Homo sapiens: one gene and its partner. The protein of the gene in region 1 interacts with the protein of each later gene in a pairwise test. Each region holds a gene or a part of one and is shown in the gene's direction. Other genes may lie near its edges. The genes, in order: SPAST and ZFYVE27.

Region 1 (7,000 bases):
GTTTTAGGTGGGAGAAGGAGAGAAATTGGTGAGGGCTCTTTTTGCTGTGGCTCGAGAACTTCAACCTTCTATAATTTTTATAGGTAAGAACATATTTTCCAACTAAGTTATTGACTATTTGTGAAATTTCCCTCTCCAAATAGGAAAGATACGATTGGAAACATTATTCAGAAGGAAGAAGTTTTAAAGAAGGGCAAGCTTAAAGACTATCTAATGAATTTAGTAGGACCCACTATATTAATAAGTAGTAAACTAGATTAATCTCAGATGACTCACATAGCTTGGTCTTTAATTAAAGTCTTATACTTGTATTTCCTCTAGATGAAGTTGATAGCCTTTTGTGTGAAAGAAGAGAAGGGGAGCACGATGCTAGTAGACGCCTAAAAACTGAATTTCTAATAGAATTTGATGGTGTAAGTGTTGATTATGATATTTTTAATGTGGCAGCATTTTAGTATATTTTCCTATTAAATGGCCAAGGTTAAAAATACAAATATCTTTATATTTGTTATTACTTTTCTAAATGAATTGAAAAAAGATTTTTTGCTTGTAGGTACAGTCTGCTGGAGATGACAGAGTACTTGTAATGGGTGCAACTAATAGGCCACAAGAGCTTGATGAGGCTGTTCTCAGGTAGGGAGATTTATATGGAAATACATGCATTTATTACAGACAATATTTACTCATGTGTCCATCTTACATATTATTTCCTTACTCTCAGTTTTAAGACTAAATTCACTATTTTCTTCCAGTACTATCTCTAGCCTCTTGTTACCAACTACATAAGGATTTTGAGGTCAACAGCTTGATATCAGGAGAATTAGTCTAGTAAAGGTTTAGTTACGGTTTTAGGCAAATTGGTCAGTTCTTCTGGGTTGCATTAAATTATCTTTAAACTTGAAAATTGATTCTTACCGTCTTTTATTGGGCTTCATGAGAAAATAATCAAATCAGGGTTCATGGAAAATGTGTTTTCTGTTCTTGTGTGTTTGAGCAGTTTATTCCCTTCATACTGGAAGGACGGTTTGGGTCAGCATAAAATTCTTGGGCATCCTTTCCCAAGGAATTTACAATATTGCTCCATTGTTTCTAGATTGGCTGTAGTAGTGTAAAAGTCTGAATCCAAATTGATTTTTTCAAATTTGTAAAATAACTTGATTTTTTTCTCTCTTTACTGGATGGGTTACGTGGGTATATTGCACCCAGGTAGTGAGCATAGGGTGCAGTAGGTAGTTTTTCAACCCACACCTCACTGCTTTCTTCCCCCATGTAGTAGTCCGCAGTGTGTATTGTTCCCATGTTTATGTCCATGTGTACTCAATTTTTAGCTCCCCACTTATGAGAACATGAGCTATTTGGTTTACTGTTCCCACATTAATTGGCGTAGTATTAAGGCCTCCACCTCCATCCATGTTGCTGCAAAGGACATTATTTCATTCTTTTTTATGGCTGCGTAGTACATAGTATTCCATGGTGTGTACGTACCACATTTTCTTTATCCAGTCCACCATTGATGGACACTTAGATTGATTCTATGTCTGCTGTCATGAATAGTACAGCAATAAACATGAAATGCATGTCTTTTTGGTATAATGATCTATTTTCCTTTGGGTATATACCCAGTAATGGGATTTCAGGGTCAAAGGTAGATTTGTTTTATGTTTTTTGAGAAATCTTCAAACTGCTTTCTACAATGACTGAACTTTACATTCCTACCAGCAGTACATACGCTCCACAACCTCACCAACATCTGTTATTTTTTTACTTTTTCCCGCCAATCTGTAGACAATATGGGATTTTTTTTGCCATTTTATTAATAGCCATTCTGACTGGTGTGAGATATCTCATTGTGATTTTGATTTGCATTTTTCTGATGGTTAGTGATGATGAGCATTTTTTCATGTTTGTTGTCCCCTCGTATGTCTTTTGAGAAGTGTCTATTCATTTCCTTTTTACCCATTTTTTAATAGGGTTGTGTGTTTTTAGCTTGTTCAATTGTTTGAATTCCTTATAGATTCTGGATATCAGACCATTGTTAGATGCAGTTCTGTAGATTGTCTGTTTACTCTGTTGATGGTTCTTTTTGCTGTGCAGAAGCTCTTTAGTTTAATTAGGTCCCACTTGTCAATTTTTATTTTTGTTGCAATTGTGTTTGGGGACTTAGCCAAAATTTCTTTCTGAGGCTGATGTCAAGAAGTGTATTTCCTAGTTTTCTTCTAGCATTTTTATACTTTGAGATCTTACATTTAAATCTTTAATCCACCTTGAGTTAATTTTTGTATATGGTGAAAAGTAAGGGTCCAGTTTCATTTTTCTACATATGGCTAGCCAGTAATCCCCATGCCATTTATTGAATAGGGAGTCCTTTTCCTCATTGCTTGTTTTTGTCAGTCTTATCAAAGATCAGATGGTTATAGGTGTGTGGCTTTATTTCTCAATTTTCTGTCCTGTTCCTTTGGTTTGTGTGTCTGTTTTTATACCAGAATTATGCTGTTTGGGCTGCTGTGTAGTTCGGTTTAAAGTCAGGTAACGTGATACTTACAGCTTTGTTCTTTTTGCTTAGGATTGCTTTGTCTATTTGGACTCTTTTTTTGCTTCCATATGAATTTTAGAATATTTTTTTCTAATTTTGTGAAAAACAACATTGATAGTTTGATAGAAATACCATTGAATCTGTAAATTGCTTTGGGCAGTATAGTCATTTTACGACCAGATAAATCAGGCAAGAGAAGGAAACAAAAGGCATCCAAATAGGAAAAGAAGTCATCATACTCTCACTCTTCACTGGCAATATGATTCTATACTTTGAAAACCCTAAAAATTCCGTCAAAAGGCTACTAGAACTGATAAATGATTTTACCCCAAGATTCAGGATACAAAATCAGTGTACAAAAAATTAGTACCATTTCTATACGCTAATAATGTCCAGGCTAAGAGTCAAATCAAGAACACAGTCCCATTTACAATAGCCACAAAGAAAATGAAATAATGGCTGGGCACAGTGGCTCATGCCTGTAATCCCAGCACTTTGGGAGGCTGAGGCAGGTGGATCACCTGAGGTCAGGAGTTCGAGACCAGCCTGACCAACATGGTGAAACCCCGTCTCTACTAAAAATACAAAAAATTAGCCAGGCGTGGTGGTGGGCGCCTGTAATCCCATCTGCTCGGGAGGCTGAGGCAGGAGAATTGCTTGAACCCAGGAGGCATAGGTTGCAGTGAGCCGAGATCGTGCCACTGCACTGCAGCCTGGGTGTGAAAGAGCAAGAATCCGTTTCCAAAATTAAAAAAAAAAAAAGAAAAAAAAAAAGACAATGGAGTACCTAGGAATACGGCTGATGAAGGAGGTGAAAGAATCTGTATGAGGAGAAGTGTAAAGCACTGCTAAAATAAATCAGAGGTGACACAAATAAATGGAAAAACACTCCATGCTCATGGATTGGAAGAATCAATATCGTTAAAATGGGAAATTTATCTTAATTTTTTTCCCTAGTTCATTTTTCTGTTTTCTTTTGCACATAAATTATGTGTTATGTTGCGTCCTTTTGTTTTCCCTATCTGTAATTTTCTTCTTCATCCTTTTAAACTCTTAGGTCTTTTTGTTTTGTTCTGTTTTCCCAAGCCTGTTGCCTTTATTTCTTACTGGGTTAGTATCTAATCTCCTTTCTGCTATATCTTTTGTAACTCTTCTTTCCTTGGTGGTTTTTTATTCATTACTTTCCTGACATCTGTTATTCTACTTTTCATCTTCTGTTTTATTTCTTTGAGCATCTGTATGTTATTTCCATAAGCTCTTACATTTCACTGGGCTCTTGTTTCATAGAAAACAATTTTTTGGCAAGGACAGACCACTTGAGGCCAGGAGTTTGAGACCAGCCTGGCCAACATAGTACAACCCTGTCTCTGCTAAAAATACAAAAAATTAGCTGGGTGTGGTCACACACACCTGTAATCCCAGCTACTCAGGAGGCTGATAATCGCTTGAACCCAGGAGGCAGAGGTTGCAGTGAGCCAAGACGGCGGCACTGTACTCTAGCCTGGGGGACAGAGCAAGGCTCTGTCTCAAAAAAAAAAAGAAAAAATTTTTTGGTCAGGCGTCATGGTGGGTCACACCTGTAATCCCAGCACTTTGGGAGGCCAGATCACTTGAGGCCGGGAATTCCAGACCAGCCTCGCCAACGTGGCAAAACCCCATATCTATAAAAAAAACTTAAGGATAAAAAAAATTAAATTTTTAAAAAATTAAATTATTTTATTTCGTGGAAAGATACTTGGTCATAATTTTAGTTTGCTCTATGGCAAAATCTTCTCATGCATGTTCTTCATTTTATCTAGTTTATGTTTATTGTGTTTTGTTTGCTCTTTTTTGGGGGCAGGTTTTGTTGTTGTTGTTTTTTTTTTTTTTTTTTTAAATGAGCCCTGTCCTGGTTTTTCCTTTTTTGCTTATTATTTTTCTTTGAATAAAAGGAGTTTTCTTGGAAAACCTAGTTTTGGAAGGATATTGTAGGGGAAGGGATAGGTATCTTGAGTAGTCCATGTATACACTAAACTAGCATGCAGCCTCCCTCACTTACAGTGAAGCCCTACCTAATAATGAAGTATATGTGTATGTAAATAAGAGATAGGGTTGATTTATTCTTCTACTAAAAAATATTGGTCACTGCAAGACATTGTCTTCCCGCCAGACTGTTAGATGCCTTCTTATAAAGATAATTCGTCTTAGAGTTTCTTTGTTCATTCTCACCTTCCTTGCCATTCCTATGCTATCAATTAGGGTTTATATGGTCTGCAGAGCCAGGCTTCATATGCTTGTTTAAATGTGGAGGGACTGGCCTTATTACCCTTTAGGGTGTGCTATCTCTTTTTGGGAGGAAAACTGTACTCTGACAGTCATGTCCATGATCTTTAGCGGCAGATCCTTTGTGTGTCTTCCTTTGTCAGTGTAATTTTCACTGCCCTAGGCAGTTCACCTTTATGTATTTTAGTTCCATAAATGTTACCTAGTTTGTTGATGAAGTGTATGTTTCTGTTTCTATTATCCTTGCTGATTTTAGTTTTTTTCAGATTCAAGAAGACAGATCTACTTATATCAGATATTTTGTTTGTTTTAAAGCATTACTGCTATTAAAAACATATACATACATAAATGATTAATTCTAACAATACCGAATTAAGGATTTTAAACATTAACTAGAGTTTTAAAAGAGTAACAAAAATATTTTTACATTGATAACTACCAAAATGCATTCCAGTGCCTTGAATATTATATTTTAAAAGCTTTTCCTGTCATTTGCTGTTTCAGCTTTAAATTCAAAATTATATTTCTAAAAGTGCTGGATTTTTTTTTTTAGGCGTTTCATCAAACGGGTATATGTGTCTTTACCAAATGAGGAGGTATGTATCTGTGTTTGAATTTTTTTTGTTTTAGAGCAGAAACAAGAACTACCATCTTGACAATATTAAGTCTTCCAATCCATGGTACAGCTACTTTGGAAAACAGTTTAGTGGTTTCTTAAAAAGATGTACATAAGCTTACTGTCAGAGCCAGCAATTTCACTCCTAAGAATTTACCCCAGAGAAACAAAAATGTATGTCCACACAAAGACTTGTACAAGAATTTTTATAGCAGCAATATTAATAATAGCCAGAACTACAAATGATCTAAAATGTTTATTTTGGTGAATAAACAAATGTGGTATATTCATTTAATGGATACTGTTATCCATTATACATGCTGCATACTCACTTCATATATTAAGTTTTATGAATGAAACTCCAAAACATTATAAGTGAAAGAAGCAAGATGATATATGTCGCATATCATAGGATTCTGTTTATATGCAGAAAACGCAAATTTATTTTTTATTTATTTATTTTTTTGAGATGGAGTCTTGCTCTGTCGCTCAGGCTGGAGTGCAGTGGCGTGATCTCGGCTCACTGCAACCTTCACCTCCTGGGTTCAAGTGATTCTCCTGCCTCAGCCTCCTGAGTAGCTGGGACTGCAGGCATGTGCCACCAGGCCTGGCTAATTTTTTGTGTTTTTAGTAGAGACGGGTTTCACTGTGTTAGCCAGGATGGTGTGATCCGCCCTCCTCAGCCTCCCAAAGTGCTGGGATTACAGGCATGAGTCACCGTGCCCGGCCAGAAATCGAAAATTTCTAGAAACGTAAAGCAGATCAGTGGGTTGTCAGGGTGAGAGTTGGGAATGAGGATTAACTGCAAACAGGTATGAGTGAACTAAAAAGTGTTCTAAAACTGGATTGTGGTGATGATTGCACATCTATAAATGTATTAAAACTCATTGAATTATATACTTACAATGGGTGAAATTCATAGTAGATGAATTCATACCTCTATAAAACTGGTTTTTTGCAGCAAAATATTTATTGCTATGTTTTTATTCAAGTGTGGTGAATTATTGCTATGTTTTTATCCAGGTGTGGTGTCTCACGCCTATAATCCCAACACTTTGGGAGGCTGAGGTGGGAGGATCGCTTGAGCCAGGAATTCAAGACCAGCCTGGGCAACATAGGGAGACCCTGTCTCTACAAAAACTTTTTTAGAAATTAACCAGGCATGGTGGCACGTGCCTTTGGTCCCAGTTACTCGGGAGGCTGAGATGGGAGGATTGCTTGAACCCAGGATATCGAGGCTATAGTGAGCTATGATTGTGCCCTGCACTCCAGCCTGGGTAACAGCACAAGACCCTGTCTCAATATAAAAAAAGAAAAGAATCATTAATTCTGAAATTAGACTGAATGATCATTTTTTAATATTTTTCAGACAAGACTACTTTTGCTTAAAAATCTGTTATGTAAACAAGGAAGTCCATTGACCCAAAAAGAACTAGCACAACTTGCTAGGTGAGTAATTTGGATTTGGTTTATCTTACAGCTTTTATTTATTTTTTGTAAATAATTCTTTTTTTAGTTATTTAAAGTAATCTTAAGTATGAAATGAGTAATTCATTGATCAGAAGACTTTCTCTCATCCTCTACCTCCT
Region 2 (8,310 bases), on another chromosome or scaffold:
ACCCCGGGGAGCTAGCAGATGCCCGGCAGGACTGCTGAGGGAGTGGGTGTGGGTTCCTTCTTGTCCCTCCATCCTGATTGGACATTCAGTTGTGGGAAGACAAGGAACTCAGTTTGGGAAATGCCATCCCAGGACTGTAGAGAACCATAATCCTGACAGAACTTCAGAAGGCAGTGTAGCATGATGGTGAGGAACAGAGTAGAGTCTCACTGCCTGCTGCAAATCCCAGCTCAGCCAGGTGTCCTTGAGCAAATTATTTCACACCCCGTGCCTCAGTTTCCCCTTCTGTAAAAGGGGGATCATCATTCTTACCTCATAGGGTTGTTACAGGTCTCATGTCAAATGAGACAGTAGTACTTACGAAGGGCTAGCACAGTGCTGGTTGGTTCATAGTAAGTAGTGGGTGCGGTTAATGTGGGAGGCCCTGACCCACGCTGTGGGTTCCTAGGATCCTGTCTTGGTCTTTCTTATCCAGCTGGAAGCAAGTTGAAGCAAACATTGTTTCTCTGGACGTGATAGAGCCCTGAGTTCACCTCTCCCCAGCCAGTCCTTATTTTACTGAGGGTCGGGGGAGAGCGGTCAAGGAAGGCAGCTTTGGAGAAGGGTGGACTTGACAGCACAGCTTAGAGACCTGGCTCAGATCAGCAGCGCTGAGAGCTGAGCCACATACAATTATGGTGGAAACCTAGAGTAGCTAGGTTGACCTGGGAGCTGCTGTGCTCCTGAGGAAGGGCCCTCCTGCCTGCTGTCAGATGGGAGCAGGGTAAGGGGGCAGTACTGTGTGTTCTGGTGTTGAGTGAGTTCTAGGGTCTGTGCCCTGGAAGAAGACAATGGAGTTTATCTTGAGGAATTTGACTCAGGGCCCCCAGGGTCCTGCCTTCCTACCCCTGCAGCAGCCAGGGCAGTTGTTTTCTCAGGATTAGATGTCCTGGACAGGCTCTTTCTTTCTGCTGTGTGAATGTCCCCCAGTTATTCAAGATCCCTTTTTTTTTTTTTTTTTGAGACAAGGTCTCACTGTGTCTCCCAGGCTGGAGTGCAGTGGCATGATCACAGCTCACTGCATCCTCGACTTCCTGGGCTCAAGTGATCCTCACAGCTCAGCCTCCCGAGTAGCTGGGACTACAGGCATGTAGCACCATGCCTGGCTAATTTTTGAATTTTTTTTGTAGAGACAGGGTCTTACTTTGTTCCTCAGGCTGGTCTTGAACTCTTGGGTTTAAGTGATTCTTGTACCTTGGTCTTCCAAAGTGTTAGGATTACAAGTGTGAGCCACCACGCCCGGCCCCTTTGTTTTATTTATGCTGCCTGCTGACTTCTGCAGGGCATTCTGTATGTTCAGTGATCTGTTTACCCTCCATACTTGCACATGTGTGATCTCATTTCATCCTTACCGTAGGTGTGACAGGAGCAGGCAGTTCTTAAGGGTTCAGAGCAGCCAGATTCCAGCAGTGCCCGGTAACACTACACACAAGAAGTATTACTCTGGTCCAGCAAATAATTTGTCTATTTCTACAACTTCTAAGTAAAGGTACTTAGCTGTTCCCATTTTACAGATGAATAACCTGAGGTAAAAAGAGTGCTTTGCCCAGAGACTTTGGCCTGGAAATGGTGGAGCTGTGACTCAAATTCAGGTTGTCTGATTCGGCTCTTGTCTTCTTTCTACCTCTTCATCCTCCCTCTCTGTTTTCCCTTTGCCCTTGCGTGTGAAGTCCCTTGTTTTATGCCTGTCCCGCTTTTGTATTTGATTTTTGGTTTGGATAATCTCTACCAGCATGGGCAGAGGCCTTTTCAGCCTCCCTCAAGGATGGCAAGGGCAGAAAGTGCTTCTTTTCCTAAACTCCTCTTAGTTCCTCATCCTTCAAGACCACTTGCTACTTTCCCTTTTCTGAGATGTTCCCAAGCTCTTTGCCATGAGGGCAGGTGTAGCAGCTCTGCTCCTGCGGCCTCTGCTCCTGAACCTGGGTCCTGAGAGCAGGGCGAGGGGAGCTGCTTTGGGGGCTTTCTCCATTTCAGCGACTATAACGAAATACACTAAGCTGGGGGGCTTTTAAATAATGGAAATCTCTCATCACAGTTCTGGAGGCTGGAAGTCCAAGATCAGGGTGTCAGCAGGATCAGGTTCTGGTGAGGTCCATTTCCGTCGTCATAGACAGCACCTTCTCACTGTGTCCTCATGAGAAGGTGGGAGGGGCACGGCAGTTCTCTGGGGCCTCTTTTATAAGGGCACTAATCCCATTCACGAGGGCTCCACCCTCATGACCCGGTCACCTCCCAGGGGCCCTGCTTTGGGTGTTAGGATTCCACATGTGAATGTTAGGGGACTGTGGTGGGGGCTATTCTATTTACCCCTGCCAGTGGATGAGGGGGTGCATGGGGAGAATGAGGGCAGACTGCAAAGGAGCTTCTCTGTGGCCTCCGTATGGGAGAGGTCTTGGTGGGGAGGGCCCCCCTTTGTCCTGGAGGCTCCATGACTGTTGCCCTGGCAGGCCCCACTGGGCCTTAGTGCCCCTGCTGTCATGGCCTCGGTGGCATCGTCACGTGGTGAGTGAGGATGGGTGAGTCCAGGCTGTTGCTGAGAAGGGGCAGAAAGAGTTGGTAGGTGTTGGAAGGGAACGTCACCTGGCTGAGCTGCTCTCAGCTCCCAGAGCCCTCCCTGGCTCCGGTCTGTGAGTGGGTTCACAGCTGTCTCCCCAGCCCACTTGGCTGCCCTGGGGTGCTTGGCCCTGACATTCCATTCAGTTTAGAGGAGACCTTGGGCTCAGGTCAGTGTCAGTCTTTGAGTAGCTCCTTTTGCCTGTCCCATTCCCCTTGTGTCCCTTGCTAAGGAGAGGCTGGGGCAGGCTGCCTTCCCCAAATTCTTGGTGTAGGGACAGAATCTTGGAGCAGCCAGTTTCCTGGTTTGGCACCAGCAGTAGGCTTGTTCTTCTCTTTCCCTGGCTGACTGACAGGGTGGGCATTTACCTGAAGCACCTTGGCCTCAGATTTCCCCTGGCTCTAGCAGAGGTCTTCCTTTCCCTGAACCTAGGGAGTCTCCTTTAGCAAGAACTTCAGGTGATTTTGGCTGGACAGAGGAAGGGACCACATGTAGCCGTCAATAAAGCTTTGGGGCCTTTCTGTGAAAGTGAGGCCTGGTGCTCTGTACTTGCCCAGACAGGTGGTCCGGCTGGGTCATAGCAGGCCTATGGGCCCCACATCCCAGAAACCTCATTCTCTGTCTCTCCTCTCCCCTTACACCCCCTTGTTGTCTTCTAGCCATTTTCTAAGCTGCCGTTGCCCCTCCACTGTTGCCGGGCACTTGGCCATCTTGGCATCTCTGGTGGTTTAGGCAGGACCTCTCCCTGCTCTGCGTCCCCCCATGCCACTCACTGCCCACCACAATTGAGCATTCTACCCTTCGTGTCTTTACAGTTGAGCATTCTACCCTTCATGTCTTCTTGGAATGTGCCTGGCTCTGAGTTTCTCTCCTGCAGTCTTCAGGGGACAGAAAGCAGGAGTTTAGGTTTTTAGGAGTTTCTGTCTTTAGCCTGTGGGTGGAGTATTTGTAAGGCATTGCTCCGGAAAGGGTCATGTTAGGCAGGTGTCATTTGGGGATGCCTGTGGTCAGGTCCCTGCCAGCTTAGCTGGCTTTCTTGGAGTGGATTCTGCTGGGTGCTCTTTGATTTCTGTTGAACCTGTAGGTAGGGCCACTCAGCTCTGGAAGGGTTCAGGGACTGGTAGCTATGTATGGCTGGAGACATCAGTCCTCAGGGGCTATCAGTCTTCTTAGTTTGAGTCCTTCTTTCTGTCTCTGAATCTGGCCTTGCTCCCTGGCTCACTGTGTCCAGCCAAGGAGGCTGGGCTGGTGTCCTGAGTGTCCCATTTAGAAGCGCCAGGAGCAGGTGAGCGTGAGAGTCCTGGGATGGGCGGGGGTTGAGCTGCTGCCTCTGTTTCTCAGGGAACTGCACGGGCTGCTCGGCCACCTTCTCAGTGCTGAAGAAGAGGGTGAGTGTCTGTGAGGGTGCATTTGTTGGGGACAGTGTCCTTGGGACTGTCGGGTGGGGAGGAGTTGAGGGGAGTCATTGAGAAAGTCTGGCTCGGGTCACATTGGGCCTGGCAGTGGCTTTCTGGAGTGAGTGTGCCCTCCCCTGCGCCTGTGCCACCTTTTACCAGCCTCCCCAGGGGGTATTCCATTTGCTCTCTTTCCTGCTCCACTTGGGCACCCCCCAGGCCCAGTTTCCTTGGGTGGGATCAGCTGGTGGAAAGGAGGGAGGTGCTGAGAACTCCAGGTACCTGAGGGTGAGGGACACATCTGACCTTGGCTCTTGTCTGCAGCGGAGCTGCAGTAATTGTGGAAACAGCTTCTGCTCTCGATGCTGCTCCTTCAAGGTGCCCAAGTCCTCCATGGGGGCCACAGGTGAGTGGTGCAGGTGGTGGGAGGGCTTGGTTGGTATCCCGCCCAGGGGATGTCACGCTGTGGCACAGAGGCAAGGGTGTCAGAGGTCAAGGGAACTTGGGATTGTAGTCAGGCCTACGGGAACGTTTCCTCCATCCCCTTTAGCAAAATCCTGAAACATTTGGTACATGCCGAAGAATAGATATGATGTACCTGTGAATTGTGAAGGGTAATAACAAGATGAATACCTGTGGCTGCTTCACTAAAGTTGAAAAACAAGAGCCCTGGCAACACCCCCGCAGCTCCCAGCACTGCTCCTGCCTTCCTGGAGTCAATCACCAGCCGCAATTTTAATCTTTTTCTTATTTCCTTGGCACTTTGAACAAAACTAAAAATTCCTTTTTTTCCTTTTATAAAATATAAAATATTTCCTATACATATTGTAAATAAAAAACACAGATAAGCAAAAGGAAAAAAAATTCCTGATTTCTTCCTGAGAGAACAATCGGGCATGGACCCTGCTGCTCATTAGCTTGCATGTAGAATAAAAGCACATGCATATTCCTGAAAAATGTGGTCACATTTCATGTACCGTTTTGTAGTATAATGTTAAACCAAGTTTTTTTTTTTTTTTTTTTGAGACGGAGTTTCACTCTTGTTGCCCAGGCTGGAGTGCAGTGGTACGGCCTTGGCTCACCACAACCTCTGCCTCCTGGGTTCAAGCAATTCTCCTGCCTCAGCCTCCCGAGTAGCTGGGATTACAGGCATGCGCCACCACACCCGGCTAATTTTGTATTTTAGTAGAGACGGGGTTTCTCCATGTTGGTCAGGCTGGTTTTGAACTCCTGACCTCAGGTGATCTGCCCGCCTCGGCCTCCCAAAGTGCTGGGATTACAGGCGTGAGCCACCGCCCCCAGCCCAAGTTCTTTTTTCTTCCGATGCAAGTAACATATGCTTACTAACTAGAAAATTTGGAAATTATTATACAGAGGACGAAGGAAGAGAAAAATAACCCTGTAATTTTACCACCCAGAGGTAACCACTGTTAAAACATTTTGGGAAATTTCACTGTGATATTTTACTTATTCTGTTTTTTTGAGACAGAGTCTCGCTCTGTCGCCCAGCCTGGAGTGCAGTGGCGCCATCTCGGCTCACTGCAACCTCCGCCTCTTGGGTTCAAACAATTCTTGTGCTTCAGCCTCCTGAGTAGCTGGGATTACAGGCGTGCATCACCATGCCTGGCTAATTTTTGTATTTAATATTTTATTTAAAAATTTTTGAAGGTGTTCTGTTGGTGCCACAATAATGTCTAATTCATAGCACAGGAGTGGCCTGCTGTTGGCATCATCACCCCCAGGATCCCCAGTTCCCATGGAAAGAAGAATCTCTGCGGGCAGGCTAGCAAGCTGGGCAGGGAGGGTGTGGGCTGGGTGGGGGGTCTGTGTGGGGCATTTGGGAGGGTGCTTCTAGTAGTTGGGGCCATGAACCAAAGGGCGCAAGGAAATGTCTCACCAAGTTCTTCCTCCTTTTCAGCCCCTGAAGCCCAGAGGGAGACTGTGTTTGTGTGTGCCTCGTGTAACCAGACCTTGAGCAAGTGAGAAGAGAGGCCAGGGTCCAACCAGGCACCCGTCCTTGGGACCAGCAGTAGACCCCCCACTCTCCCCACCCCTGGCCCACTGTGGTGTGTGCTGGGCAAATGTGGCCTGAATGCTAGGTAGGCTTCCCCTTCCTTCCTCACTCTCTCCAGCTGGATTCTGGAGCTGTTCTCCATCCATGAGAGTGGCTGGCAATGGCTGCTCTCAATCCCTTGAGGGAGAAGAGCCCCTGGAGGGCCTGGCATGTTTGTCCTGCTCTGCCTGGGACTGAGCGAGTGGACTTAGGGCTGGGCAGGCAGTAGCCACCAGAGGGCAGCAGCGAACTAGGCCAGGCCTGACTGGGGTCTGAAGATCAGGGTCAGTGTGGCTGTGCCTGGGAATTCCAGACCTGAGGTTGGGAAAAGAGGTTTTTCTCCTGCAGGGTACTGGGCCAGGCCCTCAGCCTCAGAGAGCCTGCAGAAGGGCTTGGGAGTGCCACACCCCATCTCTGCTGATTGAATGTCCCTCCAGGCACCAGGATCTCATCATTTCCCCATCAGAGGGTGTGGCCAGGCCTAACAAGACCATGGGTGCTTCTAGAAACAGGGTTGAAGTTCCCAGATTCCCTGAGAGGAGAATGTGTATAGGAGGGTTTGGCTGAGTCCTTCAGCGTTAAGTGGAGGAAAGCTTGGGGAAGCCCCAATAGCTGGACAGACCTCGGCCTCCCCTCGAAGACACCTCAATTCACAGACTCTCAGCCCACACAATGCCCCAGTGTCCCCAGCTCCGCTGGAGCAGCTGCAGGGCACTTGGATCACAACTTCTGCACCCTCTGTCCAGAGTCTAGGGCAGTCCTCCACTGGCCCAGCACTCCAGTTTCCTTTCCCTGCCTCTTGTCCAATGGAGTGGGAGGCCAGGTGAGTGGAGCAGAGGTCCTGAAGCCCTTGACCCCTGGGGGCCTGGGTAGTGTAGGATCTCGCTGGGCTGGGTCCTGGATTCCAGGGCTATTCCCTGGAGGACAGTCTCAGTTATGGGATAAGGCCCCCTGGGGGTCTCCATTTCTTTCCAACAGTTTCATGTTCACTACTGGACTCTTACGGGCTCAGTATCTCTCCCTTAGCCATGAGCTGGCTCAGGCATCCCTTCCCTTCCCTGGAGCTGCCCTGCCTTTCTCAAGTATTTATTTATTTATTGCATGGTTCCTGGGAACATGTGGCACAAGTAATGGGATGAGGAGGAATTGGGGGTGGGGGTCTTCTACCTAGGACTCTTCCCTGGAGTCATGGGCTGCCTGGGACCCAGGACCCATGAGGGGGCTGAGAGGTTTCTACACTCGAGGAGCAGGGGTCCAGAGAGGCAGGCTGGGGAGGCAAGGGACCCATCCTAGGCCCGCTTTCTTGCCGAGCCAAGCAGCTTAGCTGGGGCTGTGCAGCCAGGGGCTTACCCAGGCCAGTGGAGGTGCCACAGCCCTGGGGAGCCAGACAGGCTTTGGTATCGTATCGCCTCTGTGTCCTTTTAAGAGAGGAGAGTTCAGTACCCCGTGCTTTCTTTACACTGGAGAGGAACTAAAAGGATCTCTGTGTCTATGGAGAATTGTCAATAAAAAGGCCTCAAGCTTCTTGTTTTTGTCATGTCTTTGTGTTGGCATTTTCCCTGAGGCTGGAAGACCAGATCTCTCTGGCACTGCTGGAGTTTTGCAGGCCTGGGCAATTCCTGCAGGACCAGGCTGAGGGGCGGGCCTTTGGGGCACCATGGTGGCAGGGGCGTGGGGGCTGCAGCCTGGTCTGGGTATGAGCTGGGGGCCAAGAGGAGGAAAGCTGTGCCTTGCACGCAGGAGAGGCTCAGCAAATGCTTGTCGGATTGACTTGAGGCCCAGTCTTGTGACCCAATTGTGAGGGCCCAGCACTGGGGGTTGGGGTTGGGACTAGAACTTGGTAAACCCCAAACAATGCAGGCTTTACAACGGAAAGATTTTAACTAATCCCTCTGAGAAAGCCAGAAAGGGTCAGCCTTCAGGGAGGCTGAGAGCAGCAGGAAAGAGGATTGGACATGAGATGGGAAGTGCAAGCCATGCCCTGAGCTGGGGCAGGTGGGTGGTGGGTGGCTGGGTGCTGGGCACTGGTGAGGGCTTTGCGTGCAGTATCTCATTTATTGCTCACAGCAACTCTGAGGTAGGCACTGTTCCCCTGAAGTAGGAGCAGAGTCCCTGCAGCAGTAGAGGGTGGTGCCTGGCGCCTGCTGTGGCCCACCTCCATGCTTGGACCCCTTTACCATCTGTTGGAGCGGTGCTGGGGCCCATTGGCATAGGGATGCTGCCCCCAGGCTCACTGTGCTTTCCTCCTCTGGAAAGTGCACCTGATGGTG

What was found.
Region 2: the proteins of SPAST (region 1) and ZFYVE27 interact in binary tests that used the Homo sapiens proteins (3 or more experiments, as listed by UniProt).

Annotation. Positions count from the first base shown.
Region 1 is NC_000002.12:32,136,556-32,143,555, forward strand, and holds part of SPAST (spastin), read left to right. Parts: intron 1-7; coding exon 8-83; intron 84-321; coding exon 322-413; intron 414-553; coding exon 554-633; intron 634-5,348; coding exon 5,349-5,391; intron 5,392-6,780; coding exon 6,781-6,860; intron 6,861-7,000. UniProt on the Homo sapiens protein: ATP-dependent microtubule severing protein that specifically recognizes and cuts microtubules that are polyglutamylated.
Region 2 is NC_000010.11:97,753,331-97,761,640, forward strand, and holds the end of ZFYVE27 (protrudin), read left to right. Parts: intron 1-1,396; coding exon of another isoform or gene 1,397-1,422; exon of another isoform or gene 1,423-3,934; coding exon 3,935-3,981; intron 3,982-4,311; coding exon 4,312-4,393; intron 4,394-4,537; coding exon of another isoform or gene 4,538-4,548; exon of another isoform or gene 4,549-4,851; intron 4,852-5,905; coding exon 5,906-5,970; 3' UTR 5,971-7,565; downstream 7,566-8,310. UniProt on the Homo sapiens protein: Key regulator of RAB11-dependent vesicular trafficking during neurite extension through polarized membrane transport. Promotes axonal elongation and contributes to the establishment of neuronal cell polarity.